6 separate regions of the Homo sapiens genome follow, and regions 2, 3, 4, 5 and 6 are each linked to region 1. Evidence: fine-mapped expression QTL. A gene starts in region 1. Each other region holds a variant in brackets. All regions are shown on one strand. Distances are between the middles of the regions.

Region 1 (4,462 bases):
TGGAACATGAAGGCGGACTAGGAGCGTGACCACTGAAGCACAGCATCACGGGGAGACGGTTAGGCCTCCGGATAACTGCGGGCGAGCCTGACTGATGTCAGGTCCTCCACAAGAGGTGGAGGAGTACAGTCGTCTCTAAACTCCCCCGGGGAAAGGGAGACTCCCTTTTCCGGTCTGCTAAGTAGCGGGTGGTGTTTCTTGACACTTTTCGCTACCGCTAGACCACGGTCCGCTAGGTAACGGGTGTCTTCCCAGACGCTGGCGTCACCGCTAGACCAAGGAGCCCTCTGGTGGCCCTGTCTGGGCATAACAGAAGGCTCGCACTCTTCTGGTCACTCCTCACTATGTCCCCTCAGCTCCTATCTCTGTATGGCCTGGTTTTTCCTAGGTTATGATTGTAGAGCGAGGATTATTATAATATTGGAATAAAGAGTAATTGCTACCAACTAATGATTAATGATATTCATATATAATCATATCTAAGATCTATATCTGGTATAACTATTCTTATTTTATTATACTGGAACAGCTCGTGTCTTCGGTCTCTTGCCTCGGCACCTGGGTGGCTTGCCGCCCACAGTTGGTATCGAACTCCTGACCTCAGGTGATCCACCTGCCTCAGCCTCCCAAAGTGCTGGTATTATGGGCGTGAGCCACCGTGCCTGGTCAGAAAAATCAGTTATTTTAGGGGATGGTATGGGTGGTAATCTTTATGGGTTTTGAATCATTCCTAATCCCAGGGGTCCAAGATGCCACTGGCCTGCTAGTCAAAGGGAGGGCGTGTGGAGGTCAGGTGGTAAGGGGGTCCACAGACCTCATCTGTGGTCGTCTTTCCAGTTCCTGAATGTGTAATTGCAACAGTTACCCTTGACAATGGGCAAACTCCCACACTCATCTGCAGAGCAAGGGCCAGCCAGGTAGGAAGGGCCAGGTGGATGTCTCCTTTCCAGGGTTGTATGAATGATTCACCTGGGAAGAAGGTGAGTGGCCTCTGGGGATGTGGTTAAGGAGGACAGGAATGACTCCTTGCAACTGCTGCTCCAGAGCCTCATCACCAGGACAAATCCAGCTCGCCGGTTTTCTGTGTGACTACCAGGACCCATCTGCTGTCACGGGCGTAGCCTCCACCTCTTGCACAGCTCCGCAGTCCTGCCTCGGGCCAAGTGTGGTCTCCTGCTCTCTGCCCTCATCTGCTCAGAGATTGGCATCCTCTGCACCCGCTAGGGTTCTATGGAATTGGGTGAGCTGAAGTAACAAGTGCTTTGGGAGGCCGACGCGGGCGGATCGCTTGAGTCCAGGAGTTCGAGACCAGCCTGGGCAGCACATGAGACCTCATCTCTACAAAAATACAACAACAACAAAAAATTAGCCGGGTGTGGTGGTGCACGCCCGTAGTCCCAGCTACTTGGGTGGCCGAGGTGGGAGGATGGTTTGAGCTCGGGAGGCAGAGGTTGCAGTGAGCTGAGATCAACCCCAGAACTCCAGCCTGGGCAACAGAGCTAGACCCTGTCTCAAAAAAACACAAAACAAGTGCTGGCGATGCCTCAGGCAGGGGATCCCAGGCCGGGAGGCTCCTCGGGACAGCAGTTACTGCGTCAGGAGGGCAGGAGCTCCCCAGGTGTGCAAAGGGTTTGAGGGCACGGAGGGCTGAACAGGCAGAAGGGACAGGGAGGCAAGAAAACACCTGCAGGAGGCAGCTGCCCCCTAAGCTAAGGCTGGGGACCCAGGAGGGGTGGTCCGTGCAGGAGCTGGGGAGGCCGCTGGGGAAAGGGGCGCCCCCTGGGCTCGGCCTCGGAGGAGCGGGCCGGCCCCCAGGTCCCTCGGCCGAGCCCACGTCCCGGGCCTCGTTCTGGAGAACCCTCCAGCTGCTGCTTGGGCGTCTTGGGCTGCGCTCAGCCTAGTCCCTTCTCTACCTGGAGGGATGCGCCCGACAGCCGGCGCGCCGGAGGCCCTCAGGAAACGCAGGACGAGGCGGTGGCCGTCGAGCCTCCGGTGCCAGTCGGGGCGGGGCTTGGACGGCGGGGCGGGGACTGTAGGCGCGCAGGGCTGGGCCTGGAGGGCAGGCGGGGCGGGGCCCGTTAGGCGCGCGGGGCGGGGCTTCGGCCGCTGGGCGGAGCCGTCAATGCGCAGGCGCGGCGTCGCCCCGCCCACTCCGGCTCGGCGGCTCTGGGCCTGCGGCGGGCGCTGCGGGTTGGAGCTCGGGACGTGATCGTGGGTGCGTGCGCGCGGCCGCGCGGAGCGCTGGGCTGAGGGTCCCGGTCTGCGGTTCAGCCGCGGGTCGGGGTGGCGGGGCGCGATCTCGGGCGCCGTCAGCCAGTCGGTGCCTGTGGGGGGAGGGGGACGGCGCTGCAGCTCGTCACGTGACCGCGTGGAACACGCGCGCGCGTCCGCGGGATCCCCTCGGGGGGCGAGCTCGGAGGAACGGGGTCCTGGGCAAGGTCCCGGCGAGGCCGCCCCGAGCCTGCGCGTCGCTAAGTCCAGGCCTGCTGCGTGGGGCTTCGCGCGCTCGCGGGGTTGCGGCCCGGGCAGGGGGAGGGCCCGGGTGCTCGGAGCCTTCCCTTCGCTGCCCTCCTGCCCCCTCCCTGCTTCTGCAAGCGTGTTTCAATTTGTACAACGTGCATAAAACATGAAATTACCCTTGGCCACTTCCAGGCGCGCAGCCAGCGGCTCCCTGCCCTTCCCCTCCGGGCCCTGAGTACCGGCCCCCCACCAAGGAGGAGCCCGAGGTCTCCGTCCCGGCGGCGATGCTGCCCCGTCGGCCTCTGGCGTGGCCCGCGTGGCTGTTGCGGGGTGCTCCGGGAGCCGCGGGTTCTTGGGGTCGGCCGGTTGGCCCCCTGGCCCGCAGAGGCTGCTGCTCCGCCCCGGGGACCCCCGAGGTGCCGCTGACCCGGGAGCGCTACCCCGTGCGGCGCTTGCCGTTCTCCACGGTGTCTAAGCAGGACCTGGCCGCCTTTGAGCGCATCGTGCCCGGCGGGGTCGTCACGGACCCGGAAGCGCTGCAGGCTCCCAACGTGGACTGGTTGCGGACGCTGCGAGGTGGGTGAGGCTTGGGAAGCTGCGGCGTTTCCGCGTCCCTGCTCCGCTGCGCCTTCCCGTGGAGGCTTCAAAGCGGGCTGAGAACAACCTGGATGGGGGTGCCAGCCCCTGGCTGCGCTGAGAGGGGCGTGTGCACCGCCACAGGCTGCTGGAATGAATGACCACGAACGAGTCGCTTAGAACAACCCAAGTTTTGTTGTTGTTGTTGTTTTGTTTTTTCTTTTTTTTAAGACGGAGTCTCACTCTGTCGCCAGGCTGGAGTGCAGTCACGGAGTTTCACTCTGTCGCCAGGCCGGAGTGCAGTGGCGCGACGTCGGCTCACTGCCACCTCTGCCTCCCGGGTTCAAGCGATTTGCCTGCCTCAGCCTCCCTAGTAGCTGCGACTACAGGCGCCCGCCACCACGTTCCGCTAATTTTTGTATTTTTAGTAGAGACAGGGTTTCACCATGTTGGCCAGGATGGTCTCGATCTCTTGACCTCGTGATCCGTCCGCCTCGGCTTCCCAAATTGCTGGGATTACAGGCGTGAGCCACCCCGCCCTGCCAACAACCCAAGTTTGCCTGGCGCAGTGGCTCTGCCTGTAATCTCAGCTGCCCTGGAGGCTGAAGCCAGGAGTTCAAGACCAGCCTGGGCAACATAGCCAGAACCCCCGCCCCACTCACCTCTAAAAATAAAAATAAATAAATAAAAGTAGCCGGCCCAGGATTGAAAAAACAAAAAGTAAAAAAGTTACTCCAGCCCAGGAGTTCCAGTTTTAGTGGACTATGATCTCACCACTGCATTCCAGCCTGGGCAACAGAGCAAGACTACATCTCTAAAACAAAACAGAATTCCCCTCCCCACCAAACCCCACAAGTTTGTTCTCTAAGCTCTGGAGGCCAAAAGTGTGAAATCAGGGTATCACAGGGCTGCGCTCCCTCCAAAGCCTCCAGAGGAGGCTCCTTCCTGCCTCTTGTAGCTCTAGCTCCTGGTGGCCCCAGGTACCAAATTACTCCAGTCTCTGCCTCTGTTTTTCATACAGGTTTTTCTTCTCTGTGACTCTTCTCCAGTTGTCTTATAAAGACACTTCTCATTGGATTGAGGGCCCACCCTAATCCAGGATGATCGTATCTCAGTACTGTCAACTTAATTACATCTGCAAAGACCGTTTATCCGTTTTTTTTTTTTTTGGAGATGAAGTCTCACTCTTTTTGCCCAGGCTGGAGTGCAATGGTGCAATCTTGGCTCACTGCGACCTTCCCCTCCTGGGTGTAAGCAATTCAGCCTCCCAAGTAACTGGGATTACAGGTGCCCGCCACCATGCCCGGCTAATTTTTGTATTTTTAGTAGAGACGGGGTTTCACCATGTTGACCACGCTGGTCTCGAACTCCTGACTTCGGGTGATCCACTCACATTGGCCTCCCAAAGTGCTGAGATGACAGGCAT
Region 2 (4,934 bases), 41 kb after region 1:
CCCAGCACTTTGAGAGGCCGAGGTGGGAGGATTGCTTGAGCCCAGGAGTTTGAGAAGAGCTTGGGCACACATGGTGAGACTCTGCCTCTACAAAAAATTAAACATAGCCAGGCGTGGTGGCATGCACCTAGAGTTCCAGCTACAGGAGGCTCTTACAGGGGAGGAGGGACAAGCCTGAGCTCAGGAGGTCGAGGCTGTGGGGAGCCCCACGTGACTACACCACTGCACTCCAGCCTGGGTGACAGAGCGAGACCCTCTCTGGAAAAATAAAAAGGAGCTGGTCAGGGAGGCCGAGAGCAAATAGCTGCTAGAATGTGGCGCTGCCTGGGACGGGGAGGGCTGGGGGCCCTTGGGGTGGACCAGGAGCCTGAGTTGAGGGTTAGGGGCAGGTGGAGGGGCTGGGAAGCTCGGGGCTGTCTTAGGAGAGCCCTCCTGACACCTAGGCCCTGGGCCGGGTTCCTCCTGGTGGAACATCACAGACCTGAGCCCTCCCACTCACTTTTCCTTGGACCCCACAGGCAAGGAGCTGGGGCGGCTGTCTGCTCCCAGGCTGAGGCCCCGGGACGGGCCCCTCCTCGCTTTGTTAGCCGGTTAGACCCAGGGCGGGCGCAAGCCCTTGGCAGTGCTCCCCAGCACTGCCCCTTGGACCTCAGGGGTGTGGGGAGGACAGACCAGGGCAGGACCCAGGAGGCCACAAGGGCTGGTGGGGGTCATGGTCCTGGCAGCCCCAGTCAAAGGCTCTGCCCTCCTGCACCCACCCCCAGAGGGGGATCCTCTCGAGGGAGCATGGGCCCTGTCTCCCCACCTGCCCTTCTGGGAGATCAAGAGTTGCTGTGAAGTTTCTAGAACAGTGCCCGGCCTGGCGGACGGGCACGGAGGTGCCTCCTGGGTGTGCCCGGGTGCGGCCTGACAGGGCTGGGGTCCTGTTGGGTTGTGGGCAGGTCCTCAGACGGCCTCCTGGCTCCTGCCTCGCCCCTCCCCACAGGCCCTGTGCCAGCGGCTGTGCAAACAGAGGCCAGGAAGCGAGGTGATGCTCCCTTTGTTTCTGGCAGAGTGTGTGGCACCTGGAGCTACCTTCCGGGTTCCATGGCCCTGGGGCCCTGGGGCCCTGGGGACAGGGAGGGAATGGGATGCACAGCGGCCAGGGGTGTTCAGCGTCACCGGTGGAAGGGGTGAAACCTGTTCTTCCTGGTGGTGAGGGTTTGCCCCTTGACTCCGGAAAGCAGAGACCGTGGAGCAGGGCCCACTTCAAAGCACAGTGCTGGGGGCTGTGGCCTCGGCCCTCTGTGGACGTGGGCGGATGGGTGGCCCTGGACTGGTGAAGGACTGGCCGGGAGTTCTGTAGGGCCCCCACCTCCTGCCAGCGCCCAGCCCACAGTCGACCACTGCCTGCCCGGGGCAGGAGACTTCCTTCCTGCAGCCCCGGACCCGGGATCTGAGACCTAGAAGCTGACTCCATCCTTTGACTGCTCTGTTCTGAGCTAGGCCACCCCTGCCCCTGCCCCGAGGTGGCCCTGGGCTTGCCCGCCCGCCTGCAGTGTCGGCTGAAGAGGGTAACGTGCGTGCGCCCCGGCTGCTCCCGGCTGCTCCCGGCTGCTCCCCGGCTGCTCCCCGCTGCTCCCGGCTGCTCCCCGGCTGCTCCCCGGCTGCTCCCCGCTGCTCCCGGCTGCTCTCGGCTGCTCCCGGCTGCTCCCCAGCTGCTCCCCACCGGCCTTGGGTCTGGTGGGTGTGGCCCTCCTAGTGGGACCAGGCCACACACTGGAGCACATGGGCACGGCAATGCCAATGCCGATGGAGGCGGGTTCCTGGGCATGTGGACCTGTCCCTTACTCGAAGCAGCTGAGGGGCCTCCAGCCAGCCCCGTCCGCACCCCAGGGGTTAGGGCTCTGCCATGGGGGCGTGGGCATCTGCTCTGACAAACAACGTGTGCATTTGATTGGTGTTCCTGAGTCACCGTGGACCAGGCAGGCTGCCAGAGCGGCTGATTCTTAGCGGGGAGCTGGGGCCGGGCAGACACCCTGACTCCCTGGGGCTCCCAGCAGGGCCCCACTGGCAACAGGCAGCCTCCTCCCTCTGGCCGCCGGGCCTCCGTCCCTTTCCCAGCCTGGGGCTGGGACCACCGCTCCACACCACACTGCACTGCCCTTGTCTGCCCCAGCAGGGGGTGAAGGTGGCTGGTGGCTGAGGACCCCCTGCCCAGGCCCACACTTCTTGCTCAGGCCCCATAAGTCACTTGGGATCTGGAGAGCTGGGGACTTTGACCTGGGAGGGAGGCATCTGGTCGTGACCCTCAGGCGTGTGTAGGGAGGTGCCTGGCCGTGACCCTCAGGCGTGTGTCCCTGGCAGGTTGCTCTCCACCGGCCCCACCGTTTGTAACACATGGCTCGGCCAAGGTGATTCTGGGGTAAGGACCCATGAGGCGCCATCTTCTTTGTTCCTAGGCTGAGCCTGTGGTGCCCTGGGCAGGGTGGGTGGAGGAAGCAGCAGGGAGGCTCCTTAATGGTGGAGTGAACACCCACACGGATGTCTCTGGATAGTGGAATGCGGAGGATGCAGGGCACGCCGGTGGAGAGCTGCCCAGCCGTGCCAGCAAGGCCCCGGCATCCCTCCCACCTGCCGTTAGCACCGGGAGCTGCTCTGCTGGCCCCTCCCACAGACTCGGGCTCTGGAGGTCTACAGAGCAGCTGGGAGGGTGATGCCTAGGCGGGGGCGGAGATGCCAGGCCCCTGGGCTGCAGGTGGAGGTAAATGGGGAAGGGAGGC[T/C]GGGGGTCTCTGGGCCTTTCGCCAGCAGCCGCCCAGCCCAGGGTCTCTGATGCCAGGGAGGTCCATGTGTGCTCGGCCCCTCCTCTGAGCCCCTCAGCCCAGCCTTGTTTCTGCCTCCATGGCTATGGGGCCTGCACCCATCCGAGCCAGGCACTGGCTAGGGCAGGGAGGCTGCCTTGGGCTGGGGCCAGTCCCGGAATCCAGGCTCAGCTGGCACCGACAGGGAGGGGTTGTGGGAAGGTGACCAGCCGTGTGGAGAGCTTGGCGTCGGAGGGCATGGTGGGCACCAGCGCTGGTGGGATGTGGCGAGGGTGGTGGTGACTCATGGCGCGTGGCCCGTAGCTCTGAGGAGCATTTGCGTTTTCCTGTGGATTCACTGTAGCGCCTGGTCACAATGTTGCAGCATTTCCCTGGCTGCTTGTCTCGGAATTAATATCTATTTCCTGAAAAGAGAAATGAACTTTCTTGCAGTAAAATCTAAACAAATATTTATATTTATTTTCCACCTCCATGTCCTGTTTCAAACTTATTGTCCAGCCCAAGATTTTAAAAAGTCAGATTTTCTTTTGGTGTGAAGCAGGCTCAGGAGGAGGAGGAGGGGGAGGAAGAAGAGGAGGACGAGGAGGGGGAGGAAGCTGGGAATTGGGCTGAGCTTTCCTCGCTCATCCTTGCAGTGGCCACAGGGCCCTCTGCCCTCTCGTCTGCGTCAGGTCCTGAGTTCTGAGTCCAGAAGCCGTCGCTGTGCTGTTGGAGCCCACCAAGCCCGTCCCTTGTGGGGACAGCTCCCTCCAAGCCCCCCGGGGGGATGGACACTGAGGGTGGGGCAGGGGAGCAGGGGTAGGCCCCAGGCAGGTCCTCCCAGGGCCTGGGGAACACAGGGGCCCATCGAGGGCTCCCCAGACTCCCTCAGCCAGTTCTTCCCGAGAACAGAACAGTTAAAACCAAGCCCTCCGATGGAGGTGCGGGGAGAGGGCGTGGCTCCCGTCCCAGGAGGCAGGTGAGCTTCTGGGGATTCCAGTTCACCTGCCCCACAGCCGCACCCTGCCTGTGCCTGCACCCTGGGGAGCCCAGAGCCGGCAGGGGCCGAGGCGGTGGGACCTCGGGGGAGCTCAAGCCTCGACTGTCCCCTCGCTGGAGGCCAGAGGCCAAGATGATGTCCATGCTGGGCGGCTTGCAGAGGTAAGGGGGGCAGTTGGACCCCCCAGGTGGACAAAGCGCTTCATCTGTGGCTATTCTGAGAGACGGACAGGAGTGGGTTTTGTTTGTCTTTCGAAGGAAGTGACTTGGATTTGGAGGCTGTTCCTACTCAGGCTTCCCTGAATTCACCTGTCTTGGCTTCGTTTCGGAAGTAGGGGGCCCCTCCTGCCCAGGCCTGGTGCTGCTTCTGGGTGTTTGGGGGTTCTGGGATGTGGGGCCCAGTGAGAAAGCTGCCCCCCAACACTGTGGCGTGGAGACGCTCGAGTGTCCGCGTGACGGCTGGGGAGGGTGAGACCTGCTGGGCTTGGGACCTCCCAGCCTCGGTCTGCGGCTCAGGCCCATGGCTGGGCCGTGTTGGTGGGAGTGCCAGGCGCTTGCTGGAGCGTTGGTCATGCGTGCGCTTCAGGATGCTCCCGGGGCTCTGGGTGGTGACGGGGAGGCTGGGCTCTGCTGTGCTGTCTCCCTTCTGTAAACAGAGGGGAGGTGGATTTCTTCCCAGTTAGGTTTGGAGGGGTGGTGGGTGTGGCTAAGGATGCCTTGCGTTTTCCTTCTCCTGCTCGCCATCCTGTTTGGGGTGATTCCAGGGCAGTTTGAAGCCGTCCCTGCGCTGGCAGGTCCCTGCCTCCCCGGGGCGTGTGCCGCCATGAATTCAGTTACCTTCCTTTAAGGGGTGACTTAAGACCAGCTGCCAGGACACTGGCTGAGGACACCCCGTCACAGGGCTGAGAGGTGTGGGGCCGGCTGCCTGGCCTGGACCATCCTAGATGCCCCCTCCTGTGGACATTGTGACCATATTGTGAAGAAGAGGCCCAGGGGCTGGGGAATCAGGCTCACTTGATTAGCTGGTGGCCAAGCTAGGGCCCCCCTGGCTGCCCTGGGGCCCCCCGAGGTCGGCCAGGGCGGGTGTGCCTGACCCCAGCTGAGACTCTGTGGGTGAGACATGGGAGGCATTGCAGCCGAAGGCCCTCGGGGAGC
Region 3 (4,934 bases), 350 kb after region 1:
GCATTAGCTCTGAGACACCTCCTCCTTGTACCCATGACACCGTCGTGGTGCCTGGCTGCTGTCAGCACAGAGCATTAGCTCTGAGACACCTCCTCCTTGTACCCATGACACCGTCGTGGTGCCTGGCTGCTGTCAGCACAGAGCATTAGCTCTGAGACACCTCCTCCTTGTACCCATGGCACCGTCGTGGTGCCTGGCTGCTGTCAGCACAGAGCATTAGCTCTGAGACACCTCCTCCTTGTACCCATGACACCGTCGTGGTGCCTGGCTGCTGTCAGCACAGAGCATTAGCTCTGAGACACCTCCTCCTTGTACCCATGACACCGTCGTGGTGCCTGGCTGCTGTCAGCACAGAGCATTAGCTCTGAGACACCTCCTCCTTGTACCCATGGCACCGTCATGGTGCCTGGCTGCTGTCAGCACAGAGCATTAGCTCTGAGACACCTCCTCCTTGTACCCATGACACCGTCGTGGTGCCTGGCTGCTGTCAGCACAGAGCATTAGCTCTGAGACACCTCCTCCTTGTACCCATGGCACCGTCGTGGTGCCTGGCTGCTGTCAGCACAGAGCATTAGCTCTGAGACACCTCCTCCTTGTACCCATGACACCGTCGTGGTGCCTGGCTGCTGCATTAGCTCTGAGACACTGCTGTGTTTCCCTCCTAGTTCTGCATCAGGTGGTACTGTTTTGTTTTGGTGGCTTGGTTCATTTTTTCTTATTGCAGTATTATCACTGCATAGAAAGCAGAAGTGGTCTTCCCATATTGTGTAAAATCCCCATTAAACATACACCACATGCTTCAGAGCGGCAGGAACAGGAAGAAGGATGGGATTCCCCGTGCCCGAAGGTATACCAAGTCTACATTGTCCTGAGAGTTAGGGACTACAAACACTTGTCCGTGCAGCATTTGGGAAGGTCAGAGGAGACGACTGTGTGGTGTGCATTGGAGAAGCGTGGGGCCCCTGTGCTCACCACCACCCTAAGCCCCTGTGAGGCAGGGGGCACCTGGTGCACTGTGACCAGCACTCTCCCAGCTTCCTGCCAGGAGGAGCCAGCTCCTTAGGTTCTGTAGGGTTTGACTTAAAGAAAATTTTAAAACGTGATTTTTCAATAAGTTGGTTGCCAAAAAATCTCTGTGGTTAAGGAGGCACCTCCCTCCTGGTCACTACTTCCCCCTGCCGAGCCTTCTGCCTGGGCAACTGCACCACAATCTCCAGCTGCACCATGTGTTTTGAAAAGCGTTTCTCCCCGCCCCTCTGGGGTTTTTCTCCTCCTCCAGTGGCGAAATTTCAGAGGGCACTGAGTGGGTTACTCTTCACAAGCACAGAGCTAAGCCCAGTCCTGGTAGAAAGCACACACAAAGAAGACCCAAGACCATGAATATGCTGACCTAAGTTGGACAGAACTGCTTCATGGCTTCCTGCTGTTACTCCATGGGTTTCTGATCCTGTTCTGTAGGTTTCTGCTGTTACTCTGAGTTCCTGCTATTACTCTGTGGGTTCCTGCTGTTACTCTGTAGGCTCTGCTATTACACTATGGGTTCTGATGTTACTCTGTGAATTCCTGCTGTTACTCTGTGGGCTCTGATGTTACACTGTGGGTCCTGTTTTTACTCTGTGGGTTCTGATATTACTCTGTGGACTCTGATGTTACTCTGTGGGTTCCTGCTATTTCTCTGTGTGTCCTGCTGTTACTCTCTGGGCTCTTGTGTTACTCTGTGGGTTCCGACATTACTCTGTGGGCTCTGCTGTTACTCTGTGGGTTCTGACGTTACTTTGTGGGCTCTGCTGTTACTCTGTGGGCTCTGATGTTACACTGTGGGTTCTGCTGTTACTCTGTGAATTCCTGCTGTTACTCTGTGGATCTCTCTGTGGTTACTCTCTGAATTCCTGCTCTTATTCTGTGGACTTCTTTTGTTGCTTTGTGAGTTTCTGCAGTTAGTTTACCTCTTTACCATCCAGCCAGGAATTCTTTCACTAGGAATTGTGTGGATGCTGGCCAATTGGGCTAAATTTAATATTACTATGTCCCCTATTGTGGTGGTGGGGTCTTGGCTTGGCAATTTCTACTAGTATTCCATATGCAGTTAATCTTGACACATCAGTGAAAGAAAAATAAAATCTCAGGCCTCCAAACTTACTATGCCAAAGGGAAAAGTTAATATTGGCAACACACACACACACACGCACACACACACACACACACACATACATGCCTTCTTTTTGTTCCCAAAAGCTTACTTTATCTTATGTGAAATGTAGATCTACTGAGTATGAGACAGATGTATAACCCTCCCCCATACCTTTCTTTTCACATGTGAAATGTAGATTTGCTGTACTCTAATCAGAGCCTCACAAAAATGTGACCACTTGCCTCATAGCCTACTCTCCCCTCTTTCCCCTCCTACCGGCGCTTTTCCCTTAAATATTTGGAAAAAAGTACAGGCCAAAAATCCTACTGTAACCTGTGTTTCTTTTTCCCCAGGCAAATCCACAATTTTGGCAAAATAAACCTCTATATCAGTTGTGATCTGCCTCAGACACTTTTTGGTTTACACAACAATCCAATCATAGCGATTTATTTGGAAATA[T/C]ACCTTCACAAGTTAAATCAAACCACAGCACTACTGGGCATTATTTGTAATGGCAAACTATTGCAAACAATCTAAAGCCCATCATAGACATCATAGAAACTATTCTAATAAATTGATACATTTATATAATGGAATAATCCGCAACCTTGAAGGGAATGAAGGAAGGAATAAAGAGAGAGGGTAAGGAAGAAAAGAAAGGAGAGAGGGAAGGAGGGACAGACAGGTGTTTAAATTGGGGATGTGCAAGCAATATTGCCTGCTTCATTGCCTTCACATTATCTAAAAGCATGTGGTCAAGAAACACTATTACAATAAGCACATCAGAAATAACTTCTAAAATTACTTTTCCAAAATATGAATCCATACTATACACTTCCTGTAATGTGCACCAAATGTAGATGCACACATTTTAACAAGGAAAAGACTAATACTCATATTTGCTTGCTACACACCAGACACTGTTTTAAATGTTTTGCACACGTTAACTCATCTGTTCTTACAGAAATCCTGTAGCGTGCACCGCCACCTCCATGTTTCTAGGAGGAAACTGAGGCACGGGGGCTGCGGCTCCTGGACGCACCTGGCCTTCTCGGCCTGCCTCTCTCCCTCCAGCCGCCCCACATTCTTTTTTCCTAATTGGAAAAAACTATTCACGCTGCTCCTCCAGGGCATTTCAACCTTCTAGAAAGACTCGACAAGATTCGAAACTGTTTATAAAGAGAACGTGCTTGTGCCTGAATGCTGAGTGTGAGCGCGCAGTGATGCCCTAGAGTGCAGTCATCCCGGGCTTGGCGCCCAGCGGGTGGAAATACGGCCGCAGGGTGGAAATGCGGCGGCGGGGCTGCCCAGGCTCCTGTGGGACCCGCGCGGCGCGGGCACGCACATTCTCAGGGACGCGCGTCCTCAGGCCACGAGAACACCTGAAGGCCCCGGCCAGCGTCCTCCAGTGAAGACCCGGACCGGCGTCGTCACCCGCCGCGCAGGCCTAAATCTCAGGTCTTCACCGTCATCTCCCAGCGATCGCAGGGATCTCAGGCACTGACCGCGCCCGTCCCTGCGCCCCCCCGCCCCCGCCCCCCCGCGCCCCCGCGCCCCCGCGCCCCCGCGCCCCCACACCTCCACGCCCGGCACTCTGGGCGCGCGCGGACGGCGGGGCAGTGCCTACTACGCAGGCGCACGCTGCGGGCGTCAGGACCCGGCAGCAACACTGCCACGCGAATCCGCGCCGGCCAATCAGCATGGCCAGGGGCGGGGCTTCCCTGAGGCGCGCCGAGAGGCGGTGGCCCACTTCCGGCAATAATCGCCTGGTCGCCGTCAGGTGCCGGCCCAGGTGGCAGGCGCGCCCGTTGGGCACTGGGGGACGCGGGCGCGTCAGGTGAAGACTGGGGGCTGCAGGCGCGCTAGGTAGGTACGGGGTGCCGCGGGCGCGTCAGGTGAAGACTGGGCGCCGCAGGCGCCTTAGGTGAAGATTGGGGATCGCGGGCGCGTCAGGTGGGGACGATGGGCCACGGGCGAGTCAGGTGAAGACCGGGGGCGGCGGGCGCGTCAGGGGAAGACATGGGGTCGCGGGCGCGTCAGGTGGGGACCGGGGGTCTCGGGCGCGTCAGGTGGGGACGGGGTTGTCGCGGGCGCGTCAGGTGGGGACGGGGTTGTCGCGGGCGCGTCAGATGGGGACGGGATTGCCGCGTGCGCGTCTGCTGAGGTCTGGGTCCGCGGGCGCGTCAGGAAGGGACGATGGGCCGCGGGCGCGTCAGGTGGGGTCTGGGGGCGGCCGGCGGGTGTGGAGGGTTCATTCAGGGAGCTGCGGGCGAGTCAGGTGGGCACGGGGACCGCCCACAGGTGCATCGCGTGTCCTCAGCCGCTTCCCCTGCCCACCTTCTGCGACCCCTTCCCGCCCCCACCCTCCTGGGCCGTCTTGCAGGCCCGAGCTTGTGTCCGCCTCGCTGGGCAAGGTGTTTCGGGGACGACTCCTGCCGGCGTTTGCCCTCCGGGCTCGGCCCTTGCCTCTTCGCCGGTGGGCACCTGCTAGGTGTGACCCCTCATTCCTCCAGGCCACTCTGCCCCGTCTGCTGCTTACCTTTTTTTCCCTACTCCTGGTCTGTGGCTCTGGCTCTGTCTCTGTCTCCTCCCTTAATTTCTTTCCATGCTTATTTTTCTTGCAGCAGACACTAATTTTGCATCCTTCCCCTCACAGTAAGCTCAATTTGACCTTTTTCTCAATTAGATTCCACCTCTGTCCTTGGGTCTATTCAAACTCATTTTGAAGACTAAAGAATCTAGAGAACCATTTCTTCCCTTATGAAGCTGTCTCTTGCTGCCTCCAAATCCTTACCATCCGGCCCTA
Region 4 (4,934 bases), 30 kb after region 1:
CCTTCGGGGGAATGGAGGGAACAGAGGGAAATAAATAATTTCTTTCTTTTTCTTTTCCTTTTTTTTTTTTTTTTTTTTGAGATGGAGTCCCGCTCTGTCACCCAGGCTGGAGTGCAGTGGTGCGATCTTGGCTCACTGCAACGTCCGCCTCCCGGGTTCAGGCGATTCTCCTGCCTCAGCCTCCCGAGCAGCTGGGATTACAGGCGTGTGCCACCACACCCGGCTAATTTTTGCATTTTTAGTAGAGATGGGGTTTCACCATATTGGCCAGGCTGGTCTCGAACTCCTGACCTCGTGATCCACCCGCCTCAGTCTCCCAAAGTGCTGAGATTGCAGGTGTGAGCCACCGCGCCCAGCCTGCTTTTTCCTTTTTGCTGCTTTCAGCTCCTTCCATTGTCTTTGGGGTTCTGCGGTTTCACTCTGGTTTGGCCGGGAGTCGGCCAGATGAGTGTTTGTTTACCTGCCTGTTGGCCGGGTGAGTGTTTACCTGCCTGGCACTTCTTGGGCTTTGGGGTCTTGCTGGCTTTAGAAATTCCTCAGCCACCAGAGCCTCTTCAAACACCGTTTCTCCCCTTCCTCTGTTCTCCTCTTGGAACTCAGTCCAAGCCCCCTTGTTTCTTATCGGCTGCTGCCAGGGTCCCGCCTCTCAGGTTTGGATGCTATTTGCAGTGTCTCCAGCTTGGCGTTCTCTGCCGTGTGTGATCGGCCGTCAGATCTGTCTGCTAAGGTCCACAGGCCAGCCATGATGCATTTCATCTCCGGAAGATTGGCGTGGATATTTAAAAATTGCTTGGTCAGATTTTTTGGTTTTATATTTTTGTCTCTTATTTCTTTACACATGACACGTTTGTGTTCTGTGTCTGGAAATGACAGCGTCTGAGGTGTTTGTGGGTCTGATTCTGACCTTAGCCGTGGTGGTTTGTCTTCTTGTGTGTGTGATTTTTGGCATGAGCTCATATTCGTTAGATTTTTATCTGTAGGAATTATTTGAGGCCTGCAGGGGAGGTGGTTTGCTTCTGCAGTGGGTGGGGAGGGTGAGGGCCTGGGGCCCCGCCCGGAACCTCTTTAATCTCCACATTCTCAGCCTTTGGGACCCGAGGCAGCGTGAGTTCCGGGTGCAGGCCGCCGTTGCTCGGGAATACAGTTGGGTGTTGCTGAATGATGGGGATGCGTCCTGAGAAATGTGTCATTAGGTGGTTTCGTTTTGTGTGAGCATCACGGAGGGCACTCACACCCAGATGGGACAGCCTCTTCCACACCAAGGCTGTGTGGTGTAGCCATTGCCCCTAGGTGACAAACCACAGCTGTCATCCACTTAATGCCGGAAGCAGTTGTGACATAATGCTGAGTATGTGCCTGAACACAAAAGCTAATCCTAGAAAAGGGACCGTAAAAGTATGGTATAAAAGGTAAAAATGCCACACCTGCCTGGGGTGCCCATCACGAGTGGGTCTCGCGGGACTGGAGGTTGCTCTGGCGAGGCAGTGGGTGAGCGTGAGGGGTTGCGAAGGCCTAGGAGATGACCGTACTCTACTCTAGACTTTATAAATGCTGCACACTGAGGCCACACTAAACTGATATTAACAAGTAATTGTGCTACAACATGGTGACATCGTCATTAAGGTGATGGCAGTTTTTCAGCTCCATTTTAATGTTATGGGGCCAGCATCATCTCTGTGGTCCGGGGTTGGGTGAAACGTTGTTATGAAGCGTGACTGTATTCACATACTTTGTGGACGCCAGGCACGTGGCTCACACCTGTAATCTCAGCGCTTTGGGAAGCTGAGGTGGGAGGACTGCTTGAGGTCAGGAGTTCAAGACCAGCCTGGGCAACATGGTGAGACCGGCCCCCCACCCCCGACCACCCGCCGTTTCTACAAAAAAAATAATCAGCCAGGCATGGTGGTACATGCCTGCAGTCCCAGCTACTCAGGAGGCAGAGGTGGGAGGACTGACTGAGCACAGGAGGTTGAAGTGTGAGCCACGATCACTCTACTGCCCTCCGGCCTGGGTGACAGAGGGAGACCCTGTCTCAAAAAAACAAAACCAAATGAACATATTCTGTGGATGTGGTTTTTCTTCTTTCACAACCAGTCCTTCCTGGGCAAGTCCCCGGGCAGGGGATGTGTTCAGCCCTCTCTGGCCTGAGCACGCATCCGTGGGGACTGTGGGAGGGGCGGGGACTGGGGGGCGACGGGGACTGTGGGAGGGGTCCCTGCTGTACTCCCTGCCTGGGGTTTGTTCTCGTAGGGGTGGAGAAATAGTTTTCTGTCTACCCTTTCTAGTTCCCAGCTGGGATGGACCCTGCAGCTACAGACAGATTAACAGGAGAAATAACAGAGGCTCATGACGTGCATGTTTCACGTCTACTTGGGAGTGGCCAGGGAATGAGTGATTCTCAAAGAGCTGGCTGTGAATTCAGGCCCACGTGGCGTCTTCAACAAACAGTCAAATTTTAGGGATGTCACATGACAGGACATGGACTATGAGTCTCCAGGTGGCATCTCGGAGGAGGCAGGGAGCTGGCAGAGGACGGCAGGGCCTGAAGCTGCCTCGACCTTTGTCGGTTCTGGTGGAGGGAGGGGCCTTGCCCTTGTCAGTCATTCCTGTGCCGCTCTGAGGCAGGACCTGAGT[T/C]GGGGGAGCTTTCCTTGGATCTGCCGCTTCTCAGTTGCCTTTGTGGGAAAACAGCCCTCACCCCAACATGGCACAGTTTGGGGTGGTGCGTCCTGGTTTGCCTCTGGAGCTCCTCCTCGGTGTGCAGCTCTGCGTTAAAAGCCGCTGTCCTTGTCTGGGCAGCCCTTGAGCTGGTTTCTGGCTCCCTCTCCTGCTGGCCCGGAGGTGGGGCGGGGTCCTCACTTCACTCTGACCCTGGCTGTCCCCAGCCTCTTCTCTGAGCCGTCGCCTTCTTGACCTCTGAGGTCAGAAGAGGAGGTTGTGCGTGGGGCGGGCCAGGGCCAGGGTGTGCTTGGAGAGCTGCTGCCCTGGGGGCTCAGTGTGGGCTAAGTGGACCAGAGAGGAGGCAGCTGGGAGCCAGGACTTTGTCTGCAGTGGGCACTGGCTGGGCAGCTCCAGGGGCGACACCCATGGGGGTGGGGGCGTCCAGATAGAGCTGCCCTGGGCGCCACTGCGGACCCCTCCATCCGACCAGGTGCTGGGGATACAGACTGGAAGACGGTCTGGACTCTTCCAGGTCAGGAGGGAGGCAGTGGCAGGCCATGCGGTAACTCAGGTGGCCGCTCTCTGCCTGGGGAGATGGGAGCCCCGGGCTGAGGGAGTAGGAAGAGGGGGGAGAACTTGGGGAGATGGGAGCCCCGGGCTGAGGGAGTAGGAAGAGGGGGGAGAACTTGGGGAGATGGGAGCCCCGGGCTGAGGGAGTAGGAAGAGGGGGGAGAACTTGGGGAGATGGGAGCCCCGGGCTGAGGGAGTAGGAAGAGGGGGGAGAACTTGGGGAGATGGGAGCCCCGGGCTGAGGGATTAGGAAGAGGGGGGAGAAGTTGGGGAGATGGGAGCCCCGGGCTGAGGGAGTAGGAAGAGGGGGGAGAAGTTGGGGAGATGGGAGCCCCGGGCTGAGGGAGTAGGAAGAGGGGGGAGAAGTTGGGGAGATGGGAGCCCCGGGCTGAGGGAGTAGGAAGAGGGGGGAGAAGTTGGGGAGATGGGAGCCCCGGGCTGAGGGAGTAGGAAGAGGGGGGAGAAGTTGGGGAGATGGGAGCCCCGGGCTGAGGGAGTAGGAAGAGGGGGGAGAAGTTGGGGAGATGGGAGCCCCGGGCTGAGGGAGTAGGAAGAGGGGGGAGAAGGTGGGGAGATGGGAGCCCCGGGCTGAGGGAGTAGGAAGAGGGGGGAGAAGTTGGGGAGATGGGAGCCCCGGGCTGAGGGAGTAGGAAGAGGGGGGAGAAGTTGGGGAGATGGGAGCCCCGGGCTGAGGGAGTAGGAAGAGGGGGGAGAAGTTGGGGAGATGGGAGCCCCGGGCTGAGGGAGTAGGAAGAGGGGGGAGAAGTTGGGGAGATGGGAGCCCCGGGCTGAGGGAGTAGGAAGAGGGGGGAGAACTTGGGGAGATGGGAGCCCCGGGCTGAGTGAGTAGGAAGAGGGGGGAGAACTTGGGGAGATGGGAGCCCCGGGCTGAGGGAGTAGGAAGAGGGGGGAGAAGTTGGGGAGATGGGAGCCCCGGGCTGAGGGAGTAGGAAGAGGGGGGAGAAGTTGGGGAGATGGGAGCCCCGGGCTGAGGGAGTAGGAAGAGGGGGGAGAAGTTGGGGAGATGGGAGCCCCGGGCTGAGGGAGTAGGAAGAGGGGGGAGAAGTTGGGGAGATGGGAGCCCCGGGCTGAGGGAGTAGGAAGAGGGGGGAGAAGGTGGGGAGATGGGAGCCCCGGGCTGAGGGAGTAGGAAGAGGGGGGAGAACTTGGGGAGATGGGAGCCCCGGGCTGAGGGAGTAGGAAGAGGGGGGAGAACTTGGGGAGATGGGAGCCCCGGGCTGAGGGAGTAGGAAGAGGGGGGAGAAGTTGGGGAGATGGGAGCCCCGGGCTGAGGGAGTAGGAAGAGGGGGGAGAAGTTGGGGAGATGGGAGCCCCGGGCTGAGGGAGTAGGAAGAGGGGGGAGAAGTTGGGGAGATGGGAGCCCCGGGCTGAGGGAGTAGGAAGAGGGGGGAGAAGTTGGGGAGATGGGAGCCCCGGGCTGAGGGAGTAGGAAGAGGGGGGAGAAGTTGGGGAGATGGGAGCCCCGGGCTGAGGGAGTAGGAAGAGGGGGGAGAACTTGGGGAGATGGGAGCCCCGGGCTGAGGGAGTAGGAAGAGGGGGGAGAACTTGGGGAGATGGGAGCCCCGGGCTGAGGGAGTAGGAAGAGGGGGGAGAACTTGGGGAGATGGGAGCCCCGGGCTGAGGGAGTAGGAAGAGGGGGGAGAAGTTGGGGAGATGGGAGCCCCGGGCTGAGGGAGTAGGAAGAG
Region 5 (4,349 bases), 36 kb after region 1:
GCCGGGGTGGCGGCAGCTTTGCCCACGTGGAAGCGGGGTGGGTCTCACTTGCGTGGTGGCCCCTGGCCCCATCTTGCCTGCTGCGGCCTGGGGAGCAGGCGCTGGGTGGTGGTTCTGCCTGCTTGCTGCTCGTTCCCCGGGCATGCGTGGGCAGCGGGGGGCATGCGTGGGCAGCAGGGGGCGTGGGCAGCGGGGGCACGGGCAGGACCACGTGGGCCGTGATCGTGGGTTGCCGAGAGGACCTGAGCGCTGCGGCTCTGCTGAATGGAGCCGGGTCCCTCAGGCCGTGGACGCCCTCGGGAGGGGGGTGACTGTGGCTTGTGTCTGGACAGGAATGTGTCATTTCCCACATCTTCTAGAGGGCTGCCAGCTGGGAAGACAGTTATCAGGGCAAGCTGTGCTCTGAGTTTCGGGTTCTGCTCCTACAAAGAACGTGCGGTGCTGCGGGCGAGGGCCCCGGCACGGACAAGGGCCACTGCAGAGTGTGTTTCTGCTCGTCAGCTGCCCTGGGCAGCGGATGGGCTGGGCGATGCAGCTGGATGCACATCTCATTCTGTCATGAATGTCCAGTAAAAATCTGAATTGGTTGCAACCTTCTCTTTGCTTCTGTTACTGGAAAATCATCTTTCAGAGCCCATTGTGAAGGGCCTGTGCATCCCATTCCCACAGCCCCTGGACCACTGGGGCCATAGTGTGGCCGGGCCTGACACTACTGTGACTGTCACTGTGCCTCCTGTCCCCATGCACTGTCTGGTGGCAGCTGAGCTCCCACCGGCTGCACAGGGCAGGCCTGGACATGGAACGGGCAACTCATAACCCTTGGTGGCCCTGGAGGCCCTCAGCAGCTGGGCCTGACCGAGGTGTATCCACGGGCCCCTCCTGTCCCTGTGGGTGTCGAGGACCTCGGATCCTGCTCAGAGGGGGAAACATACCTCTGACCCGCTGCCCTGCAGAGCCCGCCTGCCTAGCCAGGGCCTCTGTGTGGACAGGCCACGTCCTCCTGGTGGAGGTCCTCGGGGGATGGGTGGGGGCCTTGGTCCAGCATGATTTTTTTTTTTTGAGACAGGATCTCACTCTGTCACCCAGGCTGGAGTGCAGGGGTATAGTCACAGCTCAGTGCAGCCTCCACCTCCTGGGCTCAAGTGATCCTCCCACCTCAGCCTCCTGAGTAGCTGGGAGTACAGGTGTGAGCCATCATGCCCAGATAATTTTTTTTTTTTTTTTTGAGACAGAGTCTTGTTCTGTCACCCAGGCTGGAGTGCAGTGGTGCGATCTTGGCTCACTGCAAGTTCCGCCTCCCGGGTTCACGCCATTCTCCTTCCTCAGCCTCCCGAGTAACTGGGACTACAGGTGTCCACCACCGTGCCCGGCTAATTTTTTGTATTTTTAGTAGAGATGGGGTTTCACCTTCTTAGCCAGGATGGTCTTGATCTCCTGACCTCATGATCTGCCCGCCTCGGCCTCCCAAAGTGCTGGGATCACAGGCATGAGCCACCGCACCCGGCCATGCCCAGATAATTTTTAAATTTTTTTTTTTGTAGAGATGAGGTGTCCCTGTGTTGCCCAGGCTGGTCTTGAACTCCTGGCCTCCAGCGGCCTCCCACCTCAGCCTCCCAAAGTGCTGGGATTACAGGCCCGAGCCTCTGCGTCCAGCCGATCCAGCATGCTTTGAAGGCACAAATCAGGGGCACTTTCATGCTGGCCCAGCAGAGCCAGTGGGTCCCGCCCAATGCCTGGGCTACTTCCTGCTGTGCCTGGGGGCACCTGGGGCTGTCCTGCCTCACTGGCCAAGGCCCGGCTCTGTCCCTGGGCTCTGGCCACTGTTCTGCCATCCCAGGCTGGGTACCCATGGGCAGCCCGACAGTATCTGTTGCACAGAGCAGACCCCAGGCCCCATGGGTGCCTGACACGAAGCCCCACAGCGTGTGCCCGC[G/A]TCCCCCGAGGTCAGCCGGCGGCTCCTGCCCTTCCCTCTGACCTCTGGTTGGGGGCCGGCCATTTTTCTGCTTGTTCCTCTAGCTCTGCTACTGGGCACATGGTCCGTGCTGGGTAGGCTGCAGGCCAGGGTGAGTTGCTGACCCGCTGACCCTGGCTGTGCACCTGCCCTCCTGCCCTGGGTGGCTGCTGCTGGCCCAGGGGTGACTTGGGGGCTTTCAAGCTTCTGCCCGTGCTGGCCGCACGACCCCACGTCCCACCCTGGGTAGGGACTTGTGATTCTCAGAGCTGGGGTCCGTTGCTTTCCTAAGGACCTCCGGCCCTGGTCGTGGTCTAAATGCTCACTCCTGTTGTTGGAGAGGCCAGCCGGGTGACAGGGAAAAGCCCAGAGCCCCGGGCTTCCCGTGAGGATCTGGGCTCAGCATGGGCTGTGGGGCTGCAGAGGCCTGGCCTTGCCTGCTGAGGGACACCCGCTGGTAGTGCCTGCAGAGGGGGGAGGAGGAATTCCTCCCCCTAGTGCCCTCTGGACCCTGGGAGAGCAAGACCTCTGCATCCACACTGCCTTCCGCTGGGCCTCTGGGGACTGGGGAAGCGGACACAGTCCAGGACTGTTGGAGGAGGAAGAGGCTGCGGCTGCTCTTCCCTGGGGGTCCGGCTCCAGGAGGCTGCGGTGACCGTTGGGCCGGAGCAGGCCAGTGCCGGGCACGTCCTGCCCATGACAGCCCTGCTGCCAGCCGTGGGCACTTGTTCCTGGAGCTCCGTGGCTGGGTCCTGCCGTCTCCGCTGCTGCCCTGCCCTGCCATGTTCACCTCCAGTTTATCCAGCAATGGGGAGAGGGGCTTCTTAGATCCCCCTCAGGCTTTTCTTTTGTGCCTTTAGATATGTGAAATACAACACAGCCAGGCAAAGCAGGTGCCGGTGAGACACCTGGCTGGCCCGAGCTGGCCCGAAGAACTGCCTGTCTGCCATGAGGAAAACCCACACTGCGTGGTGGCTGGGAGGCCAGGAGTTTTCACAAGCCGGAAACCTGTTAGATTTCTCTACCTGACAGCAGGAAAATCTGATGAGACCCGATCGCATCCAGGCAGGCCGTGTTCTCGCAGCCCGCGGGTTAACACAGACTCCGAGTGACTCCGACGCAGGAGAACGCGGCGAATCTGCGTGAGGCAGGCCACCAGCCTTGGTGCCCCGGAGACAGCTCCCCCAACGGCCATGTGACGGCGTTGAGTGTCCGTGGTCAGGTGTGTGTAAGAGACGCGCAGAGAATTCCACGCCGTCCCAACCTCCCAGCCGGAGGCTCTGACGAGGCCTGCAGCCACGCGGAAAGAGCAATGAGGAGCACGTGTGTGGGGAGGAAGGCGGGTTCTGGCCCCGTTCCTTCCGCAGCAGCTCCGGCCTGGCGGGTTCTGACGGAATTCTGCAGCGGCTCCAGCCAGGGTCGTCGGGGCGGGGTGGGTGCTCAGGGGCGGCCTTTGTGTTCGGATTAGAAGCTGGTGATTGTCACATTAAGACCTCTAAGCTGCTGCAATCTGAGAAGATGTTACACAACCAGGGCCCCTGAGCTGAGGCCAAGGAGGGGGCCAGGAGAGTGGTGGGAGGGGCCCCAGGCAGGGCCAGAGCTGCCTGTGTACAGCAGGGGAGAGGGGAGAAGGGGTGGGCCGGGTGGTCTCAGCCCCAGGGAGAGTGGAGTGCCCGCCCCTCCCCTCCCCCAGGACGGCTGGCCCCTGGGAGAGCCCCTGGGGGAGCCAGTTTCCTGTAAGCAGAAGGGCAAGTGGTTGGGACCCAGAGGTGTCTGACAGTTGTGGACTTAGAGCCCAGAGGAAGGGTTTGGGGTTTGGGGCTCCTGGGACGCCGCAGGCCCCTGAGGACGTCCATCAGGATCCTGGCAGTGTGGAGGTGTAGGGTCCAGCCCTACGGGGCTTAGCGGGTGTTTTCCCTGTGTGTGGAGATGAGGGATTGTAATAAATAAAGACACAAGATAAAGAGAGAAAGAGAAAGCAGCTGGGCTCTGGGGACCACTACCATCAAGACGCGGGGACCAGTAGTGGTCCCAGAGGGCTAGGCCCACTGATATTTATTGCATACAAGACAAGGGGGCAGGGTAAGGAGGGTGAATCTTCTCAGTGATTGACAAGGTGAAGTAAGTCATGTGATTACAGGATAGGGGGCCCTTCCCTTTTAGGTAGCCGAAGCAGAGACGGAAGGCAGCAAACGTCAGCATTTTCTTCTCTGCACTTATAAGAAAGATCAAAGACTTTAAGACTTTCACTATTTGTTTTACCGCTATCTGCTACGAACTTCAAAGAGGAACCAGGAGTACAGGAGGAGTATGAAATGCAACAAAGAGTAATATTAAAAGCTAATGATTAATAATGTTTATAATAATGATTGATAATTGTCCATGATCATCTCTATAT
Region 6 (4,547 bases), 23 kb after region 1:
CTGCTGCCCTAACCCCGTGTGGTGTGCCCCCTGTCCCCGGGTGTCGTTCCCATAGCCAGCCCTTGTCTCATCTCGTCTCATCCTCTAGATGCTGTGGGCCCTGAGGGAAAGGATCACAGAGGCGCTGAGCCGGGATGGCTACGTGTACAAGTACGACCTCTCCCTCCCTGTGGAGCGGCTCTACGACATCGTGACTGACCTGCGCGCCCGCCTCGGCCCGCACGCCAAGCACGTGGTGGGCTATGGCCACCTTGGTGAGCGGCGCCCCGGGGCCGCGGCCCTGTGTGTGCTGGGTGGTGGGCCCCACGGTCACCGTCACCCTGCCAGGCTTCGAGGCAGGGCAGTTTGACCATGGTCTCTGGCTTAGCATATCTCCCGTAGACACTGGCAGGACCACGGTGTCTGACAGGGAAGGGAAAATCCTAATCGTTGTCATGACTCGTTTTGAGTATTTTGGAAAAGACTGCCATCGTGCACTTGTAATGGCAGAGCGCATGGCTCAGCTTGTCAGAACGTTCTGGGATCTTCAGTGGCATGCAGGGTTGGAGGGCATCAGCCTTAACCCCGGAGTCCGGGATGCGGGTCTCAGGGGCTCCTCTCACAGGGCCCGGCCCCGAGGCCTTTGCAGTGCTTAGCCCCCAGCTGCTCTACCCCTTCAGATGGGAGGATTTCAAAACCACGTTCAGATCATCTTTTTTCTGCAGAAAAATCATGCTTTAACGTGTAAGCTATTAATTCATAGGAAGAAAATGTTTCAATCCTATCAGTTCTTTTTTTTGAGACGCAGTTTCACTCTTGTCACCCAGGCTGGAGTGCAGTGGCGCAATCTCGGCTCACTGCAACCTCCATCTTCTGGGTTCAAGCAATTCTCCTGCCCCAGCCTCCCGAGTCTCTGGGATTACAGGCGTCCACCACCAGGCCTGGCTAATTTTTGTATTTTTAGTAGAGACAGGGTTTTGCCATGTTGGCCAGGCTGGTCTTGAACTCCTGACCTCTGGTGATCTGCCCACTTCGGCCTCTCAAAGTGCTGGGATTACAGGAGTGAGCCACCGTGCCCAGCTGTTTTCCTGTCAGTTCTTTGGAGCCTTGGAGCGAGGTGTCTAAAAGGCCAGCTTATAGGGCAGGGGTGGGGGCAGTGCTGGGGGTGTGGAGCATGGCTTTGGGGCCTGACAGATATTCACTCTGGCTTCTTCCCTGGCCTGGTGGCACTGGAGTCACTGACCTGAAGCCTCCATCCATCTGCCAGTAAATGGGATTCAGGTGCCACCTCTGTGGTTACAGGAGGGTCTAGGGTTGTGTACGTGACGACAATAACACGTATTACTTACGAAGGTCCCGTGCTGTCCCAGGCATTATTCTAAGCACTTGATGTGGAGAAACTTCTCTGCACAACAGCTTTTAGGACTGGTGGTGTTGCTTCCCTTTTACACACATGTAAACAGGTTCAGAGAATTTAAGTAACTTGCCCAAAGTTGCCCAGCCTGTGGAGGGGTACATCTGGAGGATTTGACATAGGATGGATGGTAATCTTCTGTGATAGGAAGGCAGGACTCCTGAATGGGAAGGGGGTAAGGGCATGATGAGTGTGTCATCATCCAGAGAAGAGGGGTACGGGAGCCCCAGTATTTCAGAATATGGGAAGGGGGTAAGGGCATGATGAGTGTGTCATCATCCAGAGAAGAGGGGTACGGGAGCCCCAATATTTCAGAATATGGGAAGGGGTTAAGGGCATGATGAGTGTGTCATCATCCAGAGAAGAGGGGTACGGGATCCCCAATATTTCAGAATATGACCTCAAGCCAGGAGGAGGCTTCCTCCTCTCCAGGTAACTTCAGTCTCTCTTGGCCACAGATAAAGCAGACCATCTTGGTGAGAAATGGAATGAGCCCTCTGTTACTTTGTAAAAGCAAGAATGGGCCAGGCGCAGTGGTTCATGCCTGTAATCCCAGCACTTTGGGAGGCTGAGGCGGGTGGATCACCTGAGGTCAGGAGTTCGACACCAGCCCGGCCAAC[A/G]TGATGAAACCTCGCCTCTACTAAAAATACAAAAAATTAACTGGGCATGGTGGCAGGCACCTGTAATCCCAGCTACTCGGGAGGCTGAAGCAGGAGAATCACTTGAACCCAGGAGGCGGAGGTTGCAGTGAGCAGAGGTTGCACCATTGCACTCCAGCCTGGGTGACAAGAGTGAAACTCCATCTCAAAAAAAAAAAAAAAAGCAAGAATGAATGTTGAATTTTTAAAATGTGTTTCCTGCATCTGTCATGGTGACCGGGTGCTTGTCTGCCTGTAATCAGTGTGGTAAGTTACACTGATTGATCCCTCTGGAGTCAGATGAGTCTGTGTTTCTGGGGTAGGCCCAAGGTGGCCATGATCCTTTCTGTATCTTGCTGGATGAGTTTGTTTATGTTTGGTGTGGGATTTTGACAGGGGTCTTGGTGGATGATTCTGTTCCACGCTGTTCCTTTCTTCTGTCCATGCTGGATTTTGGTATCAAAATCATAACATGAATATTATGCAGAACTTGCCAGTGGAGCTGTTTGGGCCTGGAGGTTTTTTTGAGGGAGTATTTTAAAATTATAGCTCAGCTTCTTCAATAGCTTTAGGACTTTCAAGCTTTCCTTTCTTCTAGATTGGTATTGCTAATTTTTTCCCATATTGGCATAAAGTTGTTCGAATATTCTTTTGTTGTCTTTTTATGTAGCATTTGTGGGATGCCCCCACACCCTTTTTTTTGGTGGGGACAGGGTCTCGCTGTCACCCAGGCTGGAGTGCAGTGGCTCACCACAGCCTCGACCTTCTGGGATCAAGCAGGCCCGCCACCTCACACACACCAGCAGGCCTGGCTAACTAAAAAAAAATTTTTTTGTAGGCCCGGTGCAGTGGTTCACGCCTATAATCTCAGTACTTCAGGAAGCCAAGGCTGGAAGGATCACTGGAGTCCAGTAGTTCTAGACCAGCCTGGGCAACACAGTGACATCTGATCTATACCGCCCCCCGCCCCACAATATATGTGTGTGTGTGTGTGTGTGTGTGTGTGTGTGTGTGTGTGTGTAGAGCCAGACTCATGTAGAGCCAGTTGTGTGGCCGGACCGGTCTTGAACTCCGGGGCCTCAAGCAAATGCTCCCTCCTTGGCCTCTCAAAGCCAGAGATTACAGGCGTGAGGTACTGTGCCTGGCATTATTTGCTGCTTGCATTATCATTCCTTCTTTGACCGATGAGTTATGCAGAAGTGTGTTTCTTAATTTCCAAACGTGGTGGTTTTCTAGTTATTTTAAAAATTATTGATTTCTTTTTTATTGCATTATACCCAGGAAACTTCGTCCTTATCAGATCAGATTTTTGAAACTTGATCAGTGGCAGCTTATGATCAGCCTTCGTAACTGTGGAGTGCTTGAAAAGAATGTGCTCTCTGCAGTTGCTGGAATCAGTGTTTGTACAGATCCATCAGATAGAAGTATACGTCGCGTGTTCATTCTACATCCTGCTGACCTGCCACTCCCTGAGGGAGGTGTTAGAAATCTGCTGACAACAGACTAATCTGTTCCTCCTGTAGCTTTGCCAGTTCTGGAGACGTGTTCTTAGGGGCATAGGACATGAGGTTCGTCTCTTTGTTTTGGGAAACTGAATCTCCTAACGCGATGGACTCGCTCTTTATCTCCAGCATTGCCCGCTGCCTTGGTGTCTGCTTTGTTTATTACACAGTGATGCTAACTTTCTTTTATTTAGTGTTTGCCTGATGTGTTGTTTTTCCTCCGGTTAGCTTCAGCTTTTCCATCCTTAGTGATTTAGATGTGTTTCTTGTGGACGCCCCCGGACAGGTTTCTTGCGTACTTGTTTGCCGTCTTGAATGAGAGCGTTTGGCTGCTGAGCACGTGCTGTGGCCCACTGTTTGGATTTGTCTACTTCACCCTGCTCTTTGTCTCTCACTTCTTGTCTATTTTTTCCTCTGTTTTTTGCTCTTCTGGTTTATGTTCTTTGTCATTTAGCTTTTTGCCGTTTACTAACTGTTGGTGGTCGCCCTGGCACCACAGTGGACATTTCTAGCCCTCTGGGTTTGAGGTTAATCAGAGTCACTATCTTCCTCCCAAATAATGTGTGATGGTGAATTCTCTGCGTCCACTTGTCTGGGCCCTGGTACCCTCGTTTGGTCAAACTCCAGTTTGGATGTTTCTGTGAAGATATTTTTTATGTGTGATTAACATTTAAATCAGTAGACGTTGAGTACAGGAGATCTCCCACCACAGTGTGGGTGGGCCTTACCCAATCAGTCGAAGGACTTCGCCACAGCGTGGGTGGGCCTTACCCAGTCGAAGGCCTTCGCCACAGCATGGGTGGGCCTTACCCAATCAGTCGAAGGACTTCGCCACAGCGTGGGTGGGCCTTACCCAATCAGTCGAAGGCCTTTGCTACAGTGTGGGTGGGCCTTACCCAATCAGTCGAAGGACTTCGCCACAGCGTGGGTGGGCCTTACCCAATCAGTCGAAGGCCTTTGCTACAGTGTGGGTGGGCCTTACCCAATCAGTCGAAGGACTTCGCCACAGCGTGG

What was found.
Region 2: its variant is fine-mapped to the expression of D2HGDH in whole blood (TOPMed, PIP above 0.99).
Region 3: its variant is fine-mapped to the expression of D2HGDH in fibroblasts (GTEx, PIP 0.97).
Region 4: its variant is fine-mapped to the expression of D2HGDH in whole blood (INTERVAL, PIP above 0.99).
Region 5: its variant is fine-mapped to the expression of D2HGDH in whole blood (TOPMed, PIP above 0.99).
Region 6: its variant is fine-mapped to the expression of D2HGDH in whole blood (TOPMed, PIP above 0.99). The same link has a PIP of 0.9 or more in NK cells, T cells, Th1 cells and Th1/17 cells.

The regions. Positions count from the first base shown.
Region 1 is chr2:241,732,481-241,736,942 of GRCh38, forward strand. D2HGDH (D-2-hydroxyglutarate dehydrogenase) reads left to right here and starts at 2,150. Exons shown (of 10, transcript NM_152783.5): 1 at 2,150-2,215; 2 at 2,653-3,036. The coding sequence starts at 2,745. RefSeq lists silencers at 1,677-1,726, 1,767-2,816, 2,827-2,936 and an enhancer at 2,977-3,216.
Region 2 is chr2:241,773,044-241,777,977 of GRCh38, forward strand. It overlaps GAL3ST2 (galactose-3-O-sulfotransferase 2), which reads left to right and starts at 3,779. Exons shown (of 4, transcript NM_022134.3): 1 at 3,779-3,941. The coding sequence starts at 3,913. RefSeq lists enhancers at 1,971-2,591, 3,833-4,453, 4,454-4,934. The variant T/C (reference allele first, on the strand shown) is at 2,763.
Region 3 is chr2:242,084,808-242,089,741 of GRCh38, forward strand. LINC03100 (long intergenic non-protein coding RNA 3100) reads right to left here and starts at 3,758. Exons shown (of 1, transcript NR_186294.1): 1 at 2,544-3,758. LINC01881 (long intergenic non-protein coding RNA 1881) reads left to right here and starts at 3,826. Exons shown (of 7, transcript NR_130702.1): 1 at 3,826-3,994. The variant T/C (reference allele first, on the strand shown) is at 2,591.
Region 4 is chr2:241,762,012-241,766,945 of GRCh38, forward strand. All of the region lies in intron 9 of D2HGDH (D-2-hydroxyglutarate dehydrogenase), which reads left to right. Among named protein-coding and RNA genes, the nearest start is that of GAL3ST2, 12 kb to the right of the region's middle. RefSeq lists an enhancer at 2,273-2,886. The variant T/C (reference allele first, on the strand shown) is at 2,635.
Region 5 is chr2:241,768,220-241,772,568 of GRCh38, forward strand. D2HGDH (D-2-hydroxyglutarate dehydrogenase) reads left to right here. Exons shown (of 10, transcript NM_152783.5): 10 at 1-592. Among named protein-coding and RNA genes, the nearest start is that of GAL3ST2, 6.4 kb to the right of the region's middle. RefSeq lists an enhancer at 2,544-3,456. The variant G/A (reference allele first, on the strand shown) is at 1,934.
Region 6 is chr2:241,755,761-241,760,307 of GRCh38, forward strand. It overlaps D2HGDH (D-2-hydroxyglutarate dehydrogenase), which reads left to right. Exons shown (of 10, transcript NM_152783.5): 9 at 89-254. Among named protein-coding and RNA genes, the nearest start is that of GAL3ST2, 19 kb to the right of the region's middle. The variant A/G (reference allele first, on the strand shown) is at 2,014.